Linked DNA regions of Homo sapiens. The protein of the gene in region 3 purifies or fractionates together with the protein of the main gene of each other region. This does not show direct contact. Each region holds a gene or a part of one and is shown on either strand. Other genes may lie near its edges.

Region 1 (5,292 bases), on a different chromosome or scaffold from region 3:
GAAACCCCATCTCTGCTAAAAATATAAAAATTGGCCAGGCATGGTGGTGTGTGCCTGTAGCCCCAGCTACTCAGGAAGCCAGGGCAGGATAATTCCTTGATTTCAGGAGCCAGAGGTGGCAGTGAGCTGAGATCATGCCACTGCACTCCAGCCTGGGCGACACAGAGCAAGACTCCGTCTTAAAAAAAAAAAAAAAAAAAAAAATCTCTGACTGGTGACATCCTAAGTATGAGTTAAATCTCAGAGCTTTTTTTTTTTTTGACAGCCAAGCTGGAGTGCAGTGGCACGATCTCAGCTCACTGCAACCTCTGCCTCCCGGGCTCAAGCAATTCTCCTGCCTCAGCCCCCAAGTAGCTGGGATTACAGGCGTGTGCCACCACACCCGGCTAATTTTTGTATTTTTAGTAGAGACGGGGTTTCACCATATTGGCCAGGCTGGTCTCGAATTCCTGACCTCAGGTAATCCGCCCGCCTCGGCCTCCCAAAGTGCTGGGATTACAGGCATGAAGCACCGCGCCCGGTCCCAGAGCTATTTTTTTTTTTTTTTTTAAGAAAAAAAGATTCATGAATTTAACTAAAGTTTCTCCATATAGTTGTTTGTTTTAATTTTAGAGATGGGATCTTGCTGTGTTGGCCAGGCTGGTCTTGAACTCCTGGGCTCAAGCTATCTGCCCATCTAGGCCTCCTAAAGTACTGGGATTACAGGCGTAAACCACTGTGCCTGGCCCCTACATAGTTTTTATTTACAGAAGAATGCCAACAAATATAGAAACACAGTTTCAGTCAACACAGTAATAATCAATTCAGCCAACAATCATGCTTGGGTACCTAAATAATTGGGTAAAGACTTTGGGGGAACAGGATTTTTACACAATTTCAAAAGTATTTCCCCACTGATGACTAATTAAAAGCAAAGACAAAGAGACTCTTAGAGTGTAAAAATCTAGTAAATACTATCCTAATTAAATGATTAAAGTTATTATCATTGTTGGACAAAATCACTGCCTTTTGATGTGATGCATTGAAAAGGGCCATATCACCTCAGTAATATTTCTACCAAAGTGTTTACCTGAGTCTCAGCATGAGGAAACAATCAGATAAATCCACATTGAAAGACGTGTAAAAGCGCTGGCCTGGATTCTTCTAAGGGCCAGATATCATGAAAAACAAGGCTAGACAGATCACTTAGTGGAAACCAAACAGACATCACAGCTGCAATGTGTGATCCTCAATTGGATCCTGGCAGCCTAAAAAACAAAAAGATGGCCAGGTGCACTGGCTCATGGCTGTAATCCCAACACTTTGGGAAGCTGAGGTGGGTGGATCACTTGAGGCCAGGAGATCGAGACCAGCCTGGCCAACATAGTGAAACTCTGTCTCTACTGAAAATACAAAAAAACATAGCCAGGTGTGGTGGCATGTACCTGTATTCTCAGCTACTCGGGAGGCTCAGGCAGAAGAATCTCTTGAACTTATCTCACGCCTGTAATCGCAGCACTGTGCGAGGCCAATGTGGGTGGATCACCTGAGGTCAGGAGTTCAAGACCAGCCTGGCCAACATGGTGAAACCCGTCTCTACTAAAAATATAAAAATTAGCTGGGCACGGTGGCTCATACCTGTAATCTCAGCACTTTGGGAGGCCGAGGCGGGCGGATCACCTGAGGTCAGGAGTTCAAGACCAGCCTGGCCAACATGGTGAAACCCCATCTGTACTAAAACTAAAAAAAAATTAGCCGGGCATGGTGGTGTGCGCCTGTAAGCCCAGCTACTTGGGAGGCTGAGGCAGGAGATTCACTTGAGCCAGGGAGGCAGAGTGAGCTGAGATCATGCCACTGCACTCCAGTCTGGGCAACAGAGAGAGACTGTCTCAAAAAAAAAAAAGGAAAGAAAGAAACAACATTGGGTGTTAGTGGTGACACTAGAGATAAAAAGGGGAGAAAGGCTTTTCAGTACTCTGTTTCTCTATATACATTTCCTATTGAAGAAGGCAAGGAATTTCTAATGAAAATTTCTATATATTGATAGCAGCATGATACAGATTTGGGTAGAATTCCAGCTATATATAACATGTCTTTTAAAAAAAGAAAGGGAGGAAATAAAAAGTTAGATGTCAGTGGAAATTTTTTTCAGGCAATGAAAATATGAATTTCTTTTCCTTTTCTCTTTTTTATATTTTCCAAGTTTTCTGTAATGAGTTTACAAAATTTTTCTGATTGACAAAAATAATGACCTTTTTTTAAATGCTTGATACCATTCTTTCTATGGGATTTGTCTCTGTCCCCATCCCTTTTCTCACCCCTCTCCCCACAAAAAGTAGAAAATTCCACAGATATTATTGTTCTGTTACTCATCAGCATGTAAATAACAAGAGGCTTTAAGTATATAAAATATGGCCAGGAGTATGCAATTTGAACAGGAGCACGTACCATTACACTGAAGGAAGAATGCAGAGAGAAGAGAAGGACACGCCCACCTCACCTGCTGCAGTGCCTTTTCCTTTCAGGGGGTCATAGGTGTGCTGTATCTTGTTTTCTGTACTGTTCCAAGCAGACAATCAGTATCTCATGATCCTCTTTCTACTCTTTTTTGTTTTGTTGCTTTTTTTTTTTTTTTTAAAGAATAACTGCACAAAGACTTGCCCACCTGAATAAGTGCTTGATGAACTTTAAGCTAGGGAATTTCAGCTATCAAAAAAACCCACTGAAATTGGGAGAGCTTCAAGGAAACCACTTCACTGTTGTTCTCAGGTAAAGAACTGCAGGTGGGAATGTAGACCAGAGGGTCTGGCCAGGGCATCTTGAGTATGTTACTCACGGTTGGTCATAAGGTCCTGGTGAGCTGGTACTAACAGAACAGGAGTGGCAGCAAGGGAGGGCAGAGCAGGGCCTGGCAGGGCTGGGAGAGCAGATACCTCTGTGAGAGCAAATACCTCTGTAGGATTTGTGTGGACACCTTGCCCCTTGAAAACCTAGTGCAGCCTTTGGAAAGACACCATCTCCTTCAAATATTGTAGTAAAAGACACCGAGCCGGCTGGGCGCAGTGGCTCACGCCTGTAATCCCAGCACTTTGGGAGGCCTTGGCAGGTGGATCACAAGGTCAGGAGATCGAGACCATCCTGGCTAATACGGTGAAACCCTGTCTCTACTAAAAATACAAAAAATTAGCCGGGCGTGGTGGCAGACACCTGTAGTCCCAGCTACTCAGGAGGCTGAGGCAGGAGAATGGCGTGAACCGAGGAGGCAGAACTTGCAGTGAGCCGAGATCGCTCCACTGCACTCCAGCCTAGGGGACAGAGTGAGACTCCAACTCAAAAAAAAAAAAAAGACACTGAGCCTGTGATTCCACTTAAAGCGCCTAGAATAGGCAAATCCATGGACATAGAAAGTAAAATAGTGGTTACTGGGGAAAGGGTAGGGTAGGGGTAATGGAAAGTTACTGTTTAGGGGTACAGAGTTTCATTTTGGAAACGGGAAAAAATTTGGGAAGTAGATAGTGGTGAGGATTGTCCAACATTGTGCATATAATTAACCCATTTATGCTAGTGTTCCATTATTGGAACACTAAGCATGTAGGAATTATTTATATCCTACTGCTCAAGGTCATCGCCAAGGTCTGATTGCAAAAATTCAAAAAATTGCAACCTCTGCCATAAATGGGTTAATACCGCCAAATTGCACACTTAAAAATGGCTAAAATAGTAAATTTGACATTATAAATATCTTACCACAACTTAAAGAAAGAAAGAGCCCTTGGGAGGTAGAGAGAAAGCTGCAGGAGAGTGAACGAAAGACTTGGAAGCCAGGCCGTAGTCATTTATGAGCTGCATCCCTGAGTATTTGACTGTAACTTTTTTTCCTCTGGATAATTTGTGTCCCTGTAGAAATATAACAGGAACTGATGACCAAGTACAGCAAGCTATGAACTCTCTCAAGGAGATTGGATTTATTAACTACTATGGAATGCAAAGATTTGGAACCACAGCTGTCCCTACGTATCAGGTTGGAAGGTTGGTATTTAATTTCTTTTATCAAAAATAGCTTTCTCATAAACAAAGCAGGGTTTGTTGGTGGTGGTGTTTTTAATTATTTCTACGTTCTCCCATGTCTGGGGCAAATGAACCACAGTTTCATGATTTTTGTTTTAAGTTAATGAGTGCACAGGGTAAAAAATCGGAGTTCAAAAGGATATGACCTGAAAAGTGAGCTTTCCTACCACTCTTGGTTACCCATCCAGGGGTTCTATTTTTATTTTTTTATTTTATTTTATATATTTATTTTTTCTGAGACAGAGTTTCGCCCTTGTTGCCCAGGCTGGAGTGCAATAGCGCAATCTCGGCTCACCGCATCCTCTGCCTCCCAGGTTCAAGTGATTCTCCTGCCTCAGCCTCCTGAGTAGCTGGGTTTACAGGCATGCGCCACCATGACTGGCTAATTTTGCATTTTTAGTAGAGATGGGGTTTCTCCATGTTGGTCAGGCTGGTCTCGAACTCCCAACCTCAGGTGATCCCCCGACCTCAGCCTCCCAAACTGCTGGGATTACAGGCATGAGCCTCCACACCCAGCTATTTTTTTTATTTTTTATTTTTTTGAGATGGAATCTTTGTTGTTCAGGCTGAAGTACAGTGGTGCAATGTTGGCTCACTGCAATCTCCACCTCCCAGGTTCAAGCAATTCTCCTGCCTCGGCATCCCAAGTAGCTGAGATTGCAGGCTTTTGCCACCACATCCAGCTAACTTTGTTGTATTTTTAGTAGTGGCGGGAATTTCACCATGTTGGCCAGGCTGGTCTTGAACTCCTGACCTCAAATGATCCGCCTACCTCAGCCTCCCAAAGTGTTGGGATTACAAGTGTGAGCCACTACGCCCAGCCCTATTTTTATTTTTATTTTGTAACAGGTAAGTCTTGGCTCAGTAAGTGATTCAACAGTAATCTGTTGGGTAACTCAGACCCAGAGTAGCCAGACAGAGATGTCACATTTTCTGATCTGTGTTAACACGTTTATTAAACTTTGATCTGCCCTTCCCTCGCTCTTAATTTTATTTTATTTTTTATTTTTATTTTTTGAGATGAAGTCTTGCTGTTGCCCAGGCTGGAGTGCAGTGGTGCCATCTCCGCTCACTGCAACCTCCACCTCCCAGGTTCAAGTGATTCTCCTGCCTCAGCCTCCCACGTAACTGGGATTGCAGGCATGCACCACCTCACCCAGCTAATTTTTGTATTTTTAGTAGAGCCGAGGTTTTGTCATGTTGGCCAGGCTGGTCTCGAACTCATGACCTCCAGTGATCTGCCCG
Region 2 (5,292 bases), on a different chromosome or scaffold from region 3:
TATTCTCAACATGGCAGCTAGAGTGATACTGTTAAAATGTAAGTCAGAAAACGTCATTCTCCTACTCAAAACCTCCAATGGCTCCCCATTTTACTTAAAGCCAAAGTCCTTACACAGTTTGGCCTGCCCACTACCTCTCTGATTTCATCTTATTACCCTTCCCGTTTGCTCACTTTGATCCATCCATTGGCCTTCGTGTTCTTTGAACACACCATGCATGTTTCTGTTTTATTGTCTATCTCCTCCCACCCCTACTAAAACATAAGCTCCATGAGTGCAGAGGTTTTTGTCACTTTTATTTACTGTTGAATCCTCAACACCTAGTGTAGTATTTGGTTAACAGTAAGCAGCTGATGAATATTTGCTGAGAAAACTGAGAATGCACCTGACCTATAGCTCTTTGCAGGATATTTTGACTATTCTAAAGGAGAAAGCATTTGAACCCTGGATGCATATTCCAAAAAAGTGACCCAGGAGTAGCACTTATCAAACACAGATGATAAAAAGGCTGCCAGTAAGTTTCAGGGGTCCCACATTTAATGAGCTAAATTGCTAAAAATAGATACCACTTCAGCCAGAAGTTTTTAAATGTTGGATCACAATATTACAAGAATTGAGAAAAATAAAATGTTCTCCATGCCAAATTTCTAACTACAAATCAAAATGATGGTGAAAGTTTTTCAGTTATGTCCAGAAGCTGAAGAGGATCCTGTAGGAAGTGTAACTGAAGGATGGTAGCTTTAGAACCTATGACTCATGCCACGCTTGCTCAAGTGATCAAGAAAATGCTAGATTATAAGCTACTATTATTATAAAAATACTCAGGCTAATAATTATCATTGGGGAGAATGAGGAGAAGAAGGAAGATTAAGAGAAAGAGAAGGAAAAGAAAGAAAATTTGTTTTATAAAGAACAATAATGGCAGACAGAAAATGAAACAATAAAGTACCTGCCTATAGAAACACCATTGGTATTACAAACCAATGCCATTATTTAGCCTGCCACTTGCCAGACCAATACCCATTTTTCAACTCCAGCTGCAATTGGGAAAGTTCATATCAAAAACTGAGAGACTAGCCTATGGGACTACACCCAGAACCATCCCAAGAAATGGTCAATTATTATATATATTTAACCTGCCAACAAGACAGACTCCTACACAAATACCCCAACAAGGAAAAGTCAATCCTAGACATAATATGATCTTCCATCTCCCAAAACTGAGGAGCTTACTGTCTGAATTGGGGAACAGACCCATAAGGAACTAATATTGGCTGGGCACGGTGATTCACGCCTGTAATCCCAGCACTTTGGGAGGCTGAGGCGGGCGGATCACCTGAGATTAGGAGTTCGAGACCAGCCTGGCCAACATGGTGAAACCCTGTCTCTACTAAAAATACAAAAAGTTAGCTGGGCGTGGTGGTGCATGCCTGTAGTCCCAGCTACTCGGGAGGCTGAGGCATGAGAATCACTTGAACCCAGGAGGTGGAGGTTGCAGTGAGCCGTGATCACGACACTGCACTCCAGCCTGGGTGACAGAGAGAGACTCCATCTCAGAAAAAATAAAATAAAATAAAATAAAAAACAAATATCATGTTGTAGTTTGAGAACTACAGACTTTAGAATCAGATATAACTGAGTTCGATCTGCTAGCACAGTGACCTTGGGAAAGTTTATCCTTGTCTCAGGTTCAGTTTCCCTATATGTAAAACAGTAGTTAACAATACCTACCTCATAGGGATGTTTTGAAAATTAAATGAGATCATGTATATTAAGTACCTAACACATAGGCAGTGCAAATAAATAATGGCTTGGGTTATTACTATTAATCTAATACGGTAAGAATAACAAATATCTAACAAGATACTATAAGAATACATATGATGACTCAATTTTATGTGCCTGAGCCCTAGTAGAGGAATCAAATGGAAAGCTTCATAAAAGAGAAAGTAACCAAATAAAAGGAAGAAGTACTTGAGTTGAGCCCTGATAGCAAGTATGACCTTTCCCAGTGTGTGAGGTGGGAACAAAATTAACTGTTATAAATGTACAAAAAAAGACATATAGATCTACTTACTTTATCCTGGCTTATCTATGAAAGGCTTTCAAGACCAAGGCTATAGACTTAATAAGCAAAGAAACCAGTCCAAACAATCCTAACGATCATACCTCCATCCAAACTAAAAAGTATGTATTTATCTGAAGATTGTAAAATGTGATGAATACATACATTTTGTCTATCTCCACTCAGATGTGCAAACTCCACCATTTCATTTCCAAATTGACTGAATATTTGGACAAACTCTTGAAAGCTATTCACTTTCTCTAGTCTTTCCATAGTTGCGAGAACCTGCAAAACAGATAATAATTCATTATTTGGTGAGAGCTACTCAAGAGACTGAGATTGTCAAGGCTGAGTAGAGAGAAGAAAAGGAAAATTCTGAATTCTAGGTGAAAGCTGAGGAGGAGGAGCCAGATAGAAGACACACAAGGGGATGCTCAGAGAAGTAGAAGTAGATTCAAGGCACAGAATTATTAGGGGAATGATTTGTTTATATGATGAGATTTTGAGTTACTTGAAAAGGAAAAGGAAAAAGAATAAAAGAAATGACTACATATACAAAGGAAGGGATCATTTATGTAGCCAAGTCTAAAAGGTGGGAATGGGCAGGACCACAGTAATCAAATCTTCAGAGAACTGGGAAGGGGTGAGGATGAAAGTCAGCACACACAAGCTTTAAGGTTCAGTGAACCAGGATGATAGGAACCCTAACATTCTCAGGAAAGCAGAAGGAACCTCATCATCTTCAGAGTATAGAGTCGAAAGGGAAGTGTGGGACTTTAAGGGTGGGAAAATTAGTCTGGCTCAGTCAGGAATGGGCCATCAGGGGTGAATAAAGAGTGTGTGAATCTGGTAGAGCCAGTGACTAAAATGTTATGTGTTTTCTTGATGTAAGAAACAAAGTAAATAGATGTGAAACATATTTTCAAATACTTTTCTTTAAAATAACATTATTAGATTGTTTTAGTCGCAACAAGATAAGTTAAAAAAAAACACAGATATCCTCTGTTTACTTATTTTTCCTGAGAATATGATGAATATTTGGCATGTTAATCTGCCCTGGCAGCTCAGGAAGTTCAGGCGACTAACACTGATAAGGCACGTTGCCACCACTGTGAGAACCTCCATCTTTCAAAGAGGGGAAGGTTGTTTGTATTTCTCCAGCGCTGCCAGATCCACCTCTCCAATTTCTGATTCATTCAACACTTATCAAGTGGTTTTATCCTCAAATCCTCTAGGACAACTCCTTCCCTGGCCAACTGCTCTCCTCTTTGCCTAGGGAATTATCCAAAGCAAGAAGTGATCGTACATACCCTGGATTCCCAGATGATCATGGAGCATGACCATCATCTGAGAGATTAACTTCTGGACTGGAAGAGTTTAAATCTGTTCTGTAAGTTTTGAGATTATTCAGTAACATTTAGGGACTCTGAGTACAGAAATTTTGTAGTTGTGGATAATTATCATTTCCACTGATTTAACTGTGTCTTAAGTTATATATTGTTAGTCTCTGATTTGGGAGGGAAAAAAAGTACAGAAGAATTCAGTATTTTTATCAACTAGGTTTCTGCTACATACATTATCATAGTGCTCACCTTTTCTTTCCAAATGTTGTACACATTTAAAGCTTTTACCAATAAGCCTTAACAAGTGGATAATGATTCTCTAAGAGGAGACATTACTTGCATTCAAAAGTTTAGGCACAGCATACCCATCATTTAAGAATTGCACATATAGAAGAAACACTACTTTTAAACTACAGACAGAGTTATAAACAATTATAATAGACAAGCATTGCCAAATTACTTACAATTAACCTAAAAAGAACTTTTCTTTTTTTTTTTTTTTAAGCAACGCTCAGACATGCATAGCCCCGGGAGGAACCCAGGGCCACAAGTGCATTCAACGTACAGATGATCAGTGTGTCAATGTATCCTGCATTGCACATTAATTCCCACAGCTAGCTGCATTCTTCATCGACACACAAGCCAAGCAATCCACCACTAAGAGTCATAAAAAGCACTTTGAACAACACAGAAAGACAAAAATACAGCAACATCAGAAAGGTAAGTACCTTATTTCTTGATGTTATTATCTGTTTAATGACTACTCGGTCTGCCAGCAACAACACTTTTGTCACTGAAGAAAGAAGTAATCTTGCAGCCTTTATCACTCCTGTTTTGTCTGTAAAAATTGTGATCTGCCCATCAGATTCCAGATGGTTCAAGTTGGTTATGTCTGTAAGTGCTGCAATTGTTTCTCCTAACAAGAAAGACGAGGGGAGAAAGTTAAACAGGCATACAAATTAAAATCTAGACTTCTCTCTAACCTTGAAGGTAAGGCACAATGAGGAGAAACTCAGCTTTGGAGTCTTACTTCAGGAACAAGAAACGGTTTCACCTTGACGATTGTAGGGATTATCATACGAAGCTTTCTAACCAGAAAATAATAGCACACTCTTAAGAACTGTGACAAATTTTGCCCTCACCCAGTTTGAAAAACATCATAATTTTTGTTTCCAGTGGTAATGCAAACTACACAATCTAAAAGCCTCCTGCCCTACAAGACAGTAAGAGAAATCCCATGAGTCAAAAACCAAAGAATACCCTAAAACCCGAGCAGTAAGCAGGTGCCAAGGCTTGGGCTGGGGCGAGGCCGGGGAGAAGTCAGGGGTCACTGCCAATCTCCACAAGCTGAACGGCCTTGGGTTTTCACCCTTGGGTTTTCACGGATCCTCAGAGAGAGAAAAAAGACAGGGCTTTAGGCCCCAAGGGATGACATCTTCAATATAATGGGGGCCCGGAAAGAACTGTCAATAGGCAAAAAGAAACAATAAGGAAGTTTGTCTGTCAGTCAGCCTGGACTTTGGGTGGGGAAAGTAAACAAAACAAAAGCCTCCCTCCTGAGAATTCAAACCACAGGCTGGCCCTCATTTAGGCTACAGTTTGAATTTATATAAACTTCTTATGATGCCCAGCATAAACCATTCTATTAATTGAACTCCCAACCCTCTAGAAAAATTATCTTCTTCACTGTTGCTATCAAAACTTTTGATTTCTGTAATGGTAATTATCTACTAATAAAACAATCCAAGTATTCTTGTATTATAATACAAGGCTACAATATTCTTCAAACCTCCATACTGTTAAAAAGATTTTTAAAATAATAAACCTTTAACCAACTTATAGTGTTCAAGATCATTTTTTAAAGTCCTAAATATACCTGTGTGC
Region 3 (5,292 bases):
ATGTTGGCCAGGCTGGTCTCAGACTCCCAATCTCAAATGATCTGCCCACCTCGGCCTCCCAAAGTGCTGGGATTACAGGTGTGAGCCACCACACCTGGCCCATCAATAAAGTATTTTTAATATTAGGTCTGAGTATGCTGCCTTGAGCAGTCTATTTTACAACATTATTAACTTTGCCCATTATTGATAAATCATCTCCGAAAAGACTCAACACAAAATATTTCTATAACAAATCAGAAGCATGCATGATATTTTATTTTAAAAAGATAAAATAAGGAAAATTGAAGTCCAGCATCTCTAAGATACTGGATAAATATCTTAATAATCGAACAGTAAAGCTCTAATACAGTACAAACATTTTACCATTATGTTTGCCAATAATTAAGCAAACTGAGCATCATAAGAATGAGGTGAGATGTAAAATTACTGGAAAGTTTAATTCACTAGAAATGAGAAATTTTACATTTGTTATATTATCCTGTATTTGTGTACTACATTTTTCTGGCAGAATGACTCCTTGCTGAAAAAAAATGGCTTAAAGTAGGTGCTTTTTTAATGGTTTTGCAAATTCTGGAGAACAGGGACTGCTTCTTCCTAAACAAGATCCCCGGTCTTGCTATTAGTCTAGAATAGTGAATATATATTTAATAAATGCTTGTTGAGTGAACCAATATGTGAATGATTTTCTTAGTGGATTTCTATTAATTGAGGGAAAGGAGTTAACATGTCAATAAAAAAAGAACATTTTTACTTTCAAATAAGGAAGGCAATTTATTGTAGTGAAATTACATTGAAGTTTTATATATGACCCCCAATGCATATAAAATCATTTACCTCCACATTATAGGATAGGATATCATGAACTACAAAGATACTCAAAGTGCTATAGATGAGTTAATATTGATGTAATACATTTTCATTAATCTACCCACATTTAATTGGATGATTGAAAGGACACGTTGAAGTGTTTTTCATGATTTTTGCTACGGCCCCAGCTTTTACTGGAGTTTTTAATGCCTTTGATGACTCCAGACACTCAACTCTGTTCCTTGCAGTCTGTTTCTTTCTTCTATGGTGGTGATTAGTTATTGCAAGACTGCTTATATAGAGTAATATATAGTTTACTCTGGTATGGAGTAAACTTATACCAGAGATTTAAACATTTCTCCCTAAATGGAGTTTGTGGAAGATGTGAAAATTGGCATGACATTTGAGGCCACATTAAAAAAGCGAAGATAATTTTTAAACACTAACCAAGAGAAAAGTGCCCCAGGAAGCAAGGAACAGCAGTGTACTTCACTGCAAGTTCAAAACGTGTGCAGGGATTATTAGACATCCTTTGCACCTAACACCTTATCTATAATACATTTGATACATTTTTACATATTGCACAAATCCAGGTACACAGAGACTATCTGATGCGCCATGGCCATGGTGTAGCTATCCTCACTGAGGAGGGCTTTCCACAACTTTCTCAAGGAGCTTATTCAAGACCTTTTAAAAACAATCTACAGGCAGTTCTTTACAAGTCTCATATTTACAGATAGCACAAGCTATGGCATGGCGTATGGCCTCCCTCCTAAATATACGATTCTTTGGCATATTGGAATTGGTCAGCCTCAAAGACCGGCTGGCTACATCGTCGCACGAGACAGTCCCGCTTATTCCTCTGCACGGACTCGGAGACGGTCCTCAGCGGGAGGAGCTCAGGTCTCCCTGGGCCAGACACGTGCCCCAGAGAGTCCCCAGAAGCATGGACAGTTCTGCTCTGTTTCCATCGCTCAGGCAGGGGAGAGAGTCCGTGGCCAGGGAGTGGCTCTTTGCTGCCCCTGTGTCTTGAGTCCTCTACGTGGTGAGCAGGTGGAAGAGGGGGTAGGAGGCAGTGCGCCTCCAGCATCCTCGCCCTCATGCTCCCCACCGTCATGCTCCCCACGGTCTGGCTCTCGGAGGCCACTAGTCTGGCTGCCGGGCCCTGCATGGCCTCTTCATAAGAGGGTGGGCTTCCAGGCCTCTCCCAGTCAGCTCCCTGGAACACATCATCCACCGAGAGGGCGTGGGGTCTCAGGCAGAAGCCGCGGGCTGTTTGGTTGTGGGTTTCACACCCATTTTCCTGCACGATTCGGCCGGCAAGCTGGCTTTCCTTTCTGACACCCCTCGGGACGTGGTCCCTGGTAAAGTCTTGCGATTTCCCAGAGCCCGCGCTGAGGTTTTTGGTCAGCACTTTTTTGTGAGGGGCAAAGGTGAAAGACATGGAGTGCTTTTTAATTTCTCGGCTGGGCTTGCCTTTCTCTGTCTTTGTGGTGAAAGACTGATGTCTGCTGAAGAAATTTCTTTTGGGACTGGAAGGAGAAGCCACGGGCGAGCTGTCAGAGGACGCGTCCAGCGAGCTGCTGGAGAAGGCTTTGAGAACCAGTGCCCGCGGGAGCACCGAACCCGGGGCCAAGTTCTTGATCTTCAGGTCCACCGGCCTCTTGGTTTTGCCTTGCACTGCAGGGAAGACCTCCTCTGGAAATGGGTCTTCAGCCTCCTCACTTTCCAAACGAGAGCCTACCCGGGGCACGGGGAAGTCCCCTTCACTCTTTGTTAGTGTTTGGTTTGTCACCCGGCTCTCGAGGCACTCCTGGGAGGATGGCATGCTGGGCTCTGAGTATCTCCTATCGGGCTGTGCGAGGGAGCTTTTCAGCCTGGCCACGGTGCTCACAATGGGCTCTGGGCTGACCTCTCGGGCATCCTGTGGGCCCGCGCTATCCAAGCCAGCAGCTGTGGCCATGGGCACCTGGGGCTGCCTGCTGGGAGAGCTGATGCCACTGCTGCTGTTGGATTCCACATCAGGGTCGTTGCTGTCGTAGGCTGAGTCATTCTGCAGGGTCGACACATCTGGGGGAAGTCAAGCAGCAGTTGAACATTTGTTTGGGTTTATTTATTTATTTATTTTTATTTGTATTTTTTATTTTCATTTTTTGAGATGGAGTCTCGGTTTGTTGCCCAGGCTGGAGTGCAGTGATGTGATCTCGGCTCACTGCAACCTCTACCTCCCGGGTTCAAGTGATTCTCCTTCCTCAGCCTCAGTAGCTGGGATTACAGGTGCCCGCCACCATGCCTGGCTATTTTTTCTATTTTTAGTAGAGACGGGGTTTCACCATGTTGGCTAGGCTGTTTTTGAACTCCTGATCTCAGGTAATCTGCCTGCCTTGGCCTCCCAAAGTGCTGGGATTATAGGCGTGAGCCACCACACACGGCCATTTAGGTTCTTTTAGAAATGAACTTTGCTACAGTTCGCCCTGCTCATACCAATCAGGGCACTAGGTGATTTATTAGCAGAACTACTTAGGGGCTTGATATGACAAGAAATGTACCACATGAAAAGTTTATTTCTTTCTGAATTTATTTTGAGATCAGAAGAAAAATAGGGAAAGGAAATGAGTAAAGGAGGGAGGAAGGAGAGAAAGAGAGGAGAGAATAAGAAAAGAGAGAACAGCATTTCACTGAAAATGTATTGACCTTAATTTTTAAAACTGCTCCTTTTACTGGACCCATTTTCATTGTGATGGAGTCATATCCCATGAAGTGGAAACAAAAGTTTCTCACTCCAACTCCAGAGCTAAAGGTAGCTTAGTGAAATCAGCAGTGATTTGCGATGTACACTGGGAAGGGGGAAAGACTATCTGTGGTCTGAGGAGGCGCTGCAGGAAAAGCCCGGAGCAGGGTTTTCATGTTTAATGACTTCCTAATGGACTGGAGTCTAGTCTGACTCGGTGATTTGTGAAGGTAACTTCTGCCTCAAATATCAGAGATGCTTTACATGACTGGCAGACTGGCATGAACTTTTCCCTACAATCGTAATCAAATGATAGCACATTCCATACCTGAACTGTCAGTGTGCTCCAGGGAGTCATCAGAAGTGATACTGGAATGCACTGGAATGTTCTCCCCAAATATTTCAAAGCAGTTATCAATGAGGAATTCCACCAGTGTCTTCACCTGTGAGGAAAAGTAAGCAATTTGTCAGCTTGAAGACTTTTTTTTTTTTTTTTTTTTTTTGGAGGTGAGGAAGAATGGGGACACTGGAGTCAGGTGCCAAAATGAGAATCTGAGATCTTTATGTGTCTGAAAAGAGCATACAGAAATTTGGTAACAATCAGATACTTTTTTTTTTTTTTGAGACAGGCTTTCACTCTGTCACCAGGCTGGAGTGCAGTAGCCTGATCTCAGCTCACTGCAACCTCTGCCTCCCGGGCTCAAGCGATTCTCCCGCCTCAGCCTTCCGAGCAGCTGGGACTACGGGCGCCCGCCACCACGCCTGGCTAATTTTTTCTATTTTTAGTGGAGACGGGGTTTTGTCATGTTGCCCAGGCTGGTCTCAAACTCCTGAGCTCAGGCAATTCGCCTGCCTCGGCCTCCCAAAGTGCTGAGATTTCAGACGTGAGCCACCATGCCAACAATCACATACATTAAAGTTAGATACTCCTTGGTGTTTTGAGACATGCATTTTAAATTTAAGAACTTAAAAAAATTTAAAGTATTAATAAAATTTTCATTTAAGTAAGTAGTGTCCCAGATTGATAGACTGATAGACTGTGGTGTACAAAACACAAAAACAAAAGGGCTTTTTTATATCGGGAGAGAGTGATGTAAATACTCGCAGCACTCATCTGTCTCACAGATGACAGAAGACACGGATTTATTCAGTTTCATTAGATACATGTATCTGAGAGAGTGGAACTATGACAAAAGCATTTTGCATTTTATATTTTCACTGTGATTCTGAGTCAGTTGGAGACATTCTGAAGCATTTTATTGCCTGGACTTGGCAAACAGATGGTGAGATCATAAGTTGGGGATTTCTCATCAGTAAGCAGAACAAACCTTGTTGTTCAGGTCCTTCTGGGCTTCAAATGACAGGCTCTGGTCATTCTCCAGGGTGAGCATGTTGGGTCCAATGCAGATGGCCAGATTGCTGGAGTCCATCCTGTTCACCTCAGAGTTCTTGCTGATGAGGTGCAGCACATAGACCAAGTGCTTGAGTAGCAGGAGGTTGGGCCGGGGGAGCTTATCTGCAACCCTGGAATAAAGTGAAGGGATGTTAGTTTTCAAAAAGGCTAATGGTCTTCAGTGTAGCAAGCTGAGAGTTTCTGCCGAAACCAGACTTCCTTTAAAATGAGGAAGGTGCATTTTCACAAGTAATATTGTGAAATGCTCATTCAGACACTTCCAGTGGCAACTGACACAGAGTGAGACTGGTTAACCACAAGGTCTTGAGGAGCTAAGAAACTGGCCTTTGTAATTGGGACA
Region 4 (5,292 bases), on a different chromosome or scaffold from region 3:
AACCTCTGCTCTCCTCAAACCTGTTCCCTGGCCCTTCCCCTTTTTTAGAGCAAACTTCCTCATACCCCAAATACAAACCTACCTGCCTGGGTGCCCAATCCTTCCTATTTCTCTCCTGTCACAACAGAAGAGACAATGGGACCAATCCACCCACCTAAGCTCTGGATCCCATCTCCTCTTGCCTCTTTCAGGGACCACACCCAGGCAGCACCTCCCTCTCCCACATCTTCATCCTTCCTCTCTACTAACTCCAACCGTCAGCATTTAAGTCCCTTTAACTCTTTCCTCACCTAATAAAACCATACTGGACACCCCTTGCCATCACAGGTATACTCCCCAGCTTCTCTTCAAGCCTGACTTTCTGAAAGCATTGCCCTCTGGCTCCTGATCCCACTGACCAGCTTCCATCAGAGCCACCGGTGACTTCATTGCCAAACCTTTAATGTAAGCTCCTTGGAACACCTGACACTAATGATGTCTCCATCTTTCTTGAAATACTCCTTCCCTTGGGACATCAATGCCCTGTTTCCTCCCACCTCTCTAGCTGCTGTTCCTCTGTAAGTCCCTCAAATGCTGGAGTTTCTCAAAGCTCCATCCTCTTCACACTAGCTGTGATGTTCTTTTTCTTTCTCACAGCCCTAATCCACCTCTGCGCTGATGACCCTCAAATCCTTATGTCTGGCCTGTATTTTCTTCCTTTGTTCCATGTAAATACCCAACCGTCCTACTTAGATCTCTAGTCTTATGTCCCACAGTCACCTCCGACTGAATGTCAATAATCTGAGTGTCTTCTTCTATTCCTCCCTTCTCGATACCCCGCAACCACTAAAGCTTGTTGATATACTTCCTACATGTCCCCTGACTGGTCCCATTGTTTTCTCTCCACCCTCTCCCCTGGATTGCTGCATGACTCCTTTCTATTCTGTTGCCCTTCATATCATCCCTCAACATGGCAGCAAAGAGCTTTTCTCTAAAATACAAATCTGCTCATGTTGCTCCACTGCTAAAGACCTTTTCATAAAGGCTGACTTGCTCAGGATTAAGTCCAAGCCCTGAACCCTGGGTCTTGTGTGACTTGGCCTCACCAACCTGTCCCAAGCTGAGCTCCTGCCTGCAGCACCATGTGAAACCGACTTCTTACAATTCCTGTGATCTGTCACACTTGCTCACCTTTGCACACGCTGCTCTGTCTTCTGGCTAACCCCCTACCCCATATCTCTCATTCTTAGCTCACCTCCTCTGAAAAGCTCTCTCTGGCCTCCCCCTCTCCCTCTCAGCTAGCTAGGTGGCTCCTTTCTGGCCTCAGAGCCCCCTGTGCTGCCTCCTACCATGGCGCTTATCATGTTGTATTGTGCTTGCCTATTACTGACTGGTGTCTTCCTTGAGACCGGGACCTCTATGACGGCAGGAAGAGGTATGTCTCAGTCATCAGCCCAGGTCCTAGAGCAAAGTCTGTCACATAATTGGTAGATTTTGTGGAATCAGATAAGTTAAAAAGGAGGCAAAGAGAAAACAAAGAATGCTGGCAGACAAGTCAAGCCAGAAATAAAGCACTAAATACATACCATGAAGTCCCTGTTAAGGGTTTGCTATTAGTGCAGTGTTTGGCTTTCTAGCCGCACACGCAGAGGGGAAACATGATCAGTTATACAAATGACAATATCCATGAGATAAAAGCCAATAACTGCTCAGAGACCAGAAAGGAATTGCACCTGGGGAACCTCTTGGATTGGTCACAGTGCAATATACTGAACCATGTCCACAAACCATATCCTTTTAGGCTTGTCATAGCTGCTTGGGCTTGTGTCTTATTCTTCTAATTAGCGTTAGCGCTTTGAAGGTAAGTGGGGTCTGTATCTCTTTCTCATTTTGGTATCCCCCACTGAACCGGGCACAACACCTTAAACAGTGTACAATAAATATTACTGTGTACATAGATACTGTGAGGCACATGTAGGCAAATATCAATCAATCAATCTTAGTAATTGACTCCCTGAAAACCTGCTAAATAAAAAAGCAGATTTTCCTTTCTCAGCTTCCCCTACATGCCCATCGGGAGTTTTTTAAGTGTAGCCAAAGGGATCCCCTCAGAAGACAGACAAGGCAATGGCCCGCAGCCAATCAAGAAGGACAGGGAGTTGCCGTGGAGACCACCTGCTGGGAATGGAGCTCACCTGTTGATGCCTTCTACGGCTGACGTCACATTATCATCAATCTGCAGCACAGTCTTATAGTCAACATAGGCCATAGGGTACTTCTCCAGAGCCTCATAAGCAGATGCTCGCCGCAGCAGGGGCTTAATGCTGAAGGGAACCAAGGCCAGTGCTCTAGAATAGGAGGCAAAAATGTCAACTGGCTGGCTGCTGAGCCACCAGGGTTTCCCTACAGTTTCTTCCAGGCAGGGTTATCTGGAGCACTCAGCGTACAGGAAGTAATTTCTGGCCGAGAGACATGGCTAAAAACGCCAAACCTCAGAACAGGGATTTTTCAACGTAGACTGAAGTGAGGAGGAGAAAGAAGGCAGAGAAACATGAATTTTGTTAAATGTGTGTGCACATGCATCAATTTTCATAGTTTCAGTTCCCCCAAAATCAAGAACAAAAGCCTCATGGCTTTCATGCTACTATGTTTTTTTACAGTTGTGGTCTAGTGGGAATAACAAACAAGCTTTGGAGTCAGATGGGGTGGTGTCTGAATTCCACCTCTGCTGCTAACTATGTGACCCAGGTAAATCACTTTACTGCCCCAACCCTCAGCAACCAAGTTCTGGCCTGGGACACATGGTAACCGTACCCCACAGATTGGTTGTGAACACTCAAAGAGGGAAATCTGGCACAAGGCATGGCACAAATTAATTCAGCACAGGCTCTGTGAGTATGCTCACACCCCTCCTGCTCTCCTGGCTATCACCAGGGCAGGAATCTAAAGCAATGTCAGAGGACATCAGATCTGAGAACACATTTCAGGTAAATGTGAGAGTTTAATGATGATAAAAGAATATTAGACTGGCTTGAAGAAAAAGAGATATGAAACATTGTTCAGTGTCCTCTAAAACTGGTCATTCATGAATACCATTTTTTTCCTTTCTCCTTCTGAGACAATCTATTAACCTCTATTCCTCCTTCTTTCCTTCGCTCCCTTCCCCTCACATACTCCCATCCCAGAAAAGCACCTGGGCAAGCCAGTTACTGGTCTGCCACTCCACCTTATTCCCAGGTTTCAAATTGCACAAAGACTTTACGGCCTGCTTCTAACTGCCCATCCCACTCCTTTTTCGGCAGCAGAGCCAAGACTCCAAAGATGCAAGTCACGGGCCATAAGGACCAAATAAAGACTCCCATTCTCAGTGACCTGGTGAAACTCAGTGACACTTTCTTAATATCTGTCCCAGATGTAATTGATGGGATCCTTCCAAAGAAGAAACAAGCCAGATTAACCCAGCCTCCTCTTCTGAGACCCTCAGGCATCCCAAAATTACCCTTGGCCACTTACGAAGTGCAATCTTTGATGCAGTCTCTGCAGTTTCCATCCTTCAAGTGACATGCTGCTCGGTTGGAGTAGAGAACACTTTCTTCTTCTGGGTCTGAAGAACCTGCCCAGATAGAGTGGGGAAGATGATCAGTTTGGAAAATGGGTGCCTCAGGGCATTAGGATACATTTCAAACTCAGAGCTCTTTGGGCCTTGTGTTAAGGCAGTAGAGATAACTATAACCTGTTCAGGCTTGTTGGTCTGCTGGGCTGGCGTGTTTGTCATTCTTATGTGACAGAAGGACACTGCGCTTTTTGCCATTCAAAGGGAACCAAGTATTTCCTCATTCACTCATTCCAGCACTGAACTTGATAACAGACAAAAGATAAACAAGAAATAGCTAGCTTCTGCCTCAAAGAAATCCATGCTGTAACTACTTGGGTTTGGGTGGATAAATGGATGGATAGGTGTGTATTTTATTACAAAAAGCATTTAAATCCAAGAAAGAAAGAAAAAAAAAAAAAGAAAAGAAAGGGAGGGAGGGAGGGAACAAGATGATAAACGTATGATAAATGGATTGACCAAAAGTTGTAGGGGCACAAAACACCCATGAAAGACATGAGACTAGTTTTACCTGGTCAAGCCAGGGAGGACTTTGTCAGGGAAATGATAATTGAGCTGGGTGTGATGGGAGTACAGAGAACTTAATCAGGAAAAAGTCTTAAGCTACCCCATGGGGAGAATTATTAGACATTCTTCTAAGGCAGTCCTTACCCTCAGGAATCGCAGAGGCTCAAGTCCTTCACTGTGGCCACCATGATCTTTATTTACGTATTTTTTTTTGAGACAGAGTCCTGCTCTGTTGCCCAGCCTGGAGTGCAGTGGAGCGATCTCCGCTCACTGCAACTCCACCTCCTGGGTTCAAGCAATTCTCCTGCCTCAGCCTCAGCCTCCTGAGTAGCTGGGATTACAGGCACTCGCCACCACGCCTGGTAGAGACAGGGTTTCACTATGTTGGCCAAGCTGGTCTTGAACTCCTGACCTCAGGCAATCCGCCTGCCTCGGCCTCCCAAAGTACTGGGATTACAGACGTGAGCCACCGTGCCCAACCAACAATGATCTTTATTTTTAAAGATAATTTTCAACCACTTCATACCCACTAGTGTCGGCCATTATTTTAAAAAGAATTGAAAACAGGGTCTCTTTTTGAAAATTTTGAAACATACAGAAGACCATTATCTCAGAATCCACCACTAGATTTAGCACGTTATATTAGTTCCCAACTTTTTTAATTTTTAGAGACAGCGTCTCCCTCTGTTGCCCAGGCTGAAGTGTAGTAGCACAATCATAGCTCACTGCAGCCTCAAACTCTTGGGCTCAAGTGATCTTCCCAGCTCAGCCTACCAAGCAGATAGGACTACAGGTGTGTACCCCCAAGCCCAGTTAATTTTTAAAGTTTTTGTAGAGACAGAGTCCCACTGTGTTGCCCAGGTTGGTCTTGAATGCCTAGCCTCAAGTGATCCTCCCGCTTTGGCCTCCCAAAGTGTTGGGATTATAGGCATGAGCTATGGCACCCAACCCTTAAAAATTTTTTTGATAAGCTAAAACTCCAGCCATCCCCATCCTTATCCCTGTGCTCCCTCCCCAGACTCACAGAGGCCAGTACAATCCTGAAGTTGGTATGTAACATTTTCAAGCATGTTCTACATTTACATATATATGTATATATGTATATGTATATATGTATACATGTACATGTATATATATGTATATGTATATATATGTGTGTGTGTGTGTGTGTGTTAACAGGAAAGATACCATTT

Evidence for each region.
Region 1: the proteins of TAGAP (region 3) and PUS7 purify together in Homo sapiens (affinity purification with mass spectrometry; one large-scale study listed by BioGRID and IntAct). This does not show direct contact.
Region 2: the proteins of TAGAP (region 3) and CTNNAL1 purify together in Homo sapiens (affinity purification with mass spectrometry; one large-scale study listed by BioGRID and IntAct). This does not show direct contact.
Region 4: the proteins of TAGAP (region 3) and TOMM34 purify together in Homo sapiens (affinity purification with mass spectrometry; one large-scale study listed by BioGRID and IntAct). This does not show direct contact.

Annotation. Positions count from the first base shown.
Region 1 is NC_000007.14:105,479,768-105,485,059, reverse strand, and holds part of PUS7 (pseudouridylate synthase 7 homolog), read left to right. Parts: intron 1-2,619; coding exon 2,620-2,748; intron 2,749-3,882; coding exon 3,883-4,008; intron 4,009-5,292. UniProt on the Homo sapiens protein: Pseudouridylate synthase that catalyzes pseudouridylation of RNAs.
Region 2 is NC_000009.12:108,988,496-108,993,787, forward strand, and holds part of CTNNAL1 (alpha-catulin), read right to left. Parts: intron 4,325-5,292; coding exon 4,137-4,324; intron 4,129-4,136; exon of another isoform or gene 3,914-4,128; intron 3,456-3,913; exon of another isoform or gene 3,342-3,455; intron 2,351-3,341; coding exon 2,231-2,350; intron 1-2,230. UniProt on the Homo sapiens protein: May modulate the Rho pathway signaling by providing a scaffold for the Lbc Rho guanine nucleotide exchange factor (ARHGEF1).
Region 3 is NC_000006.12:159,034,248-159,039,539, forward strand, and holds the end of TAGAP (T-cell activation Rho GTPase-activating protein), read right to left. Parts: intron 5,063-5,292; coding exon 4,867-5,062; coding exon of another isoform or gene 4,849-4,866; exon of another isoform or gene 4,658-4,848; intron 3,982-4,657; coding exon 3,867-3,981; intron 2,878-3,866; coding exon 1,580-2,877; 3' UTR 234-1,579; downstream 1-233. UniProt on the Homo sapiens protein: May function as a GTPase-activating protein and may play important roles during T-cell activation.
Region 4 is NC_000020.11:44,952,894-44,958,185, forward strand, and holds part of TOMM34 (mitochondrial import receptor subunit TOM34), read right to left. Parts: intron 3,593-5,292; coding exon 3,493-3,592; intron 2,728-3,492; exon of another isoform or gene 2,328-2,727; coding exon 2,175-2,327; intron 1-2,174. UniProt on the Homo sapiens protein: Plays a role in the import of cytosolically synthesized preproteins into mitochondria. Binds the mature portion of precursor proteins. Interacts with cellular components, and possesses weak ATPase activity.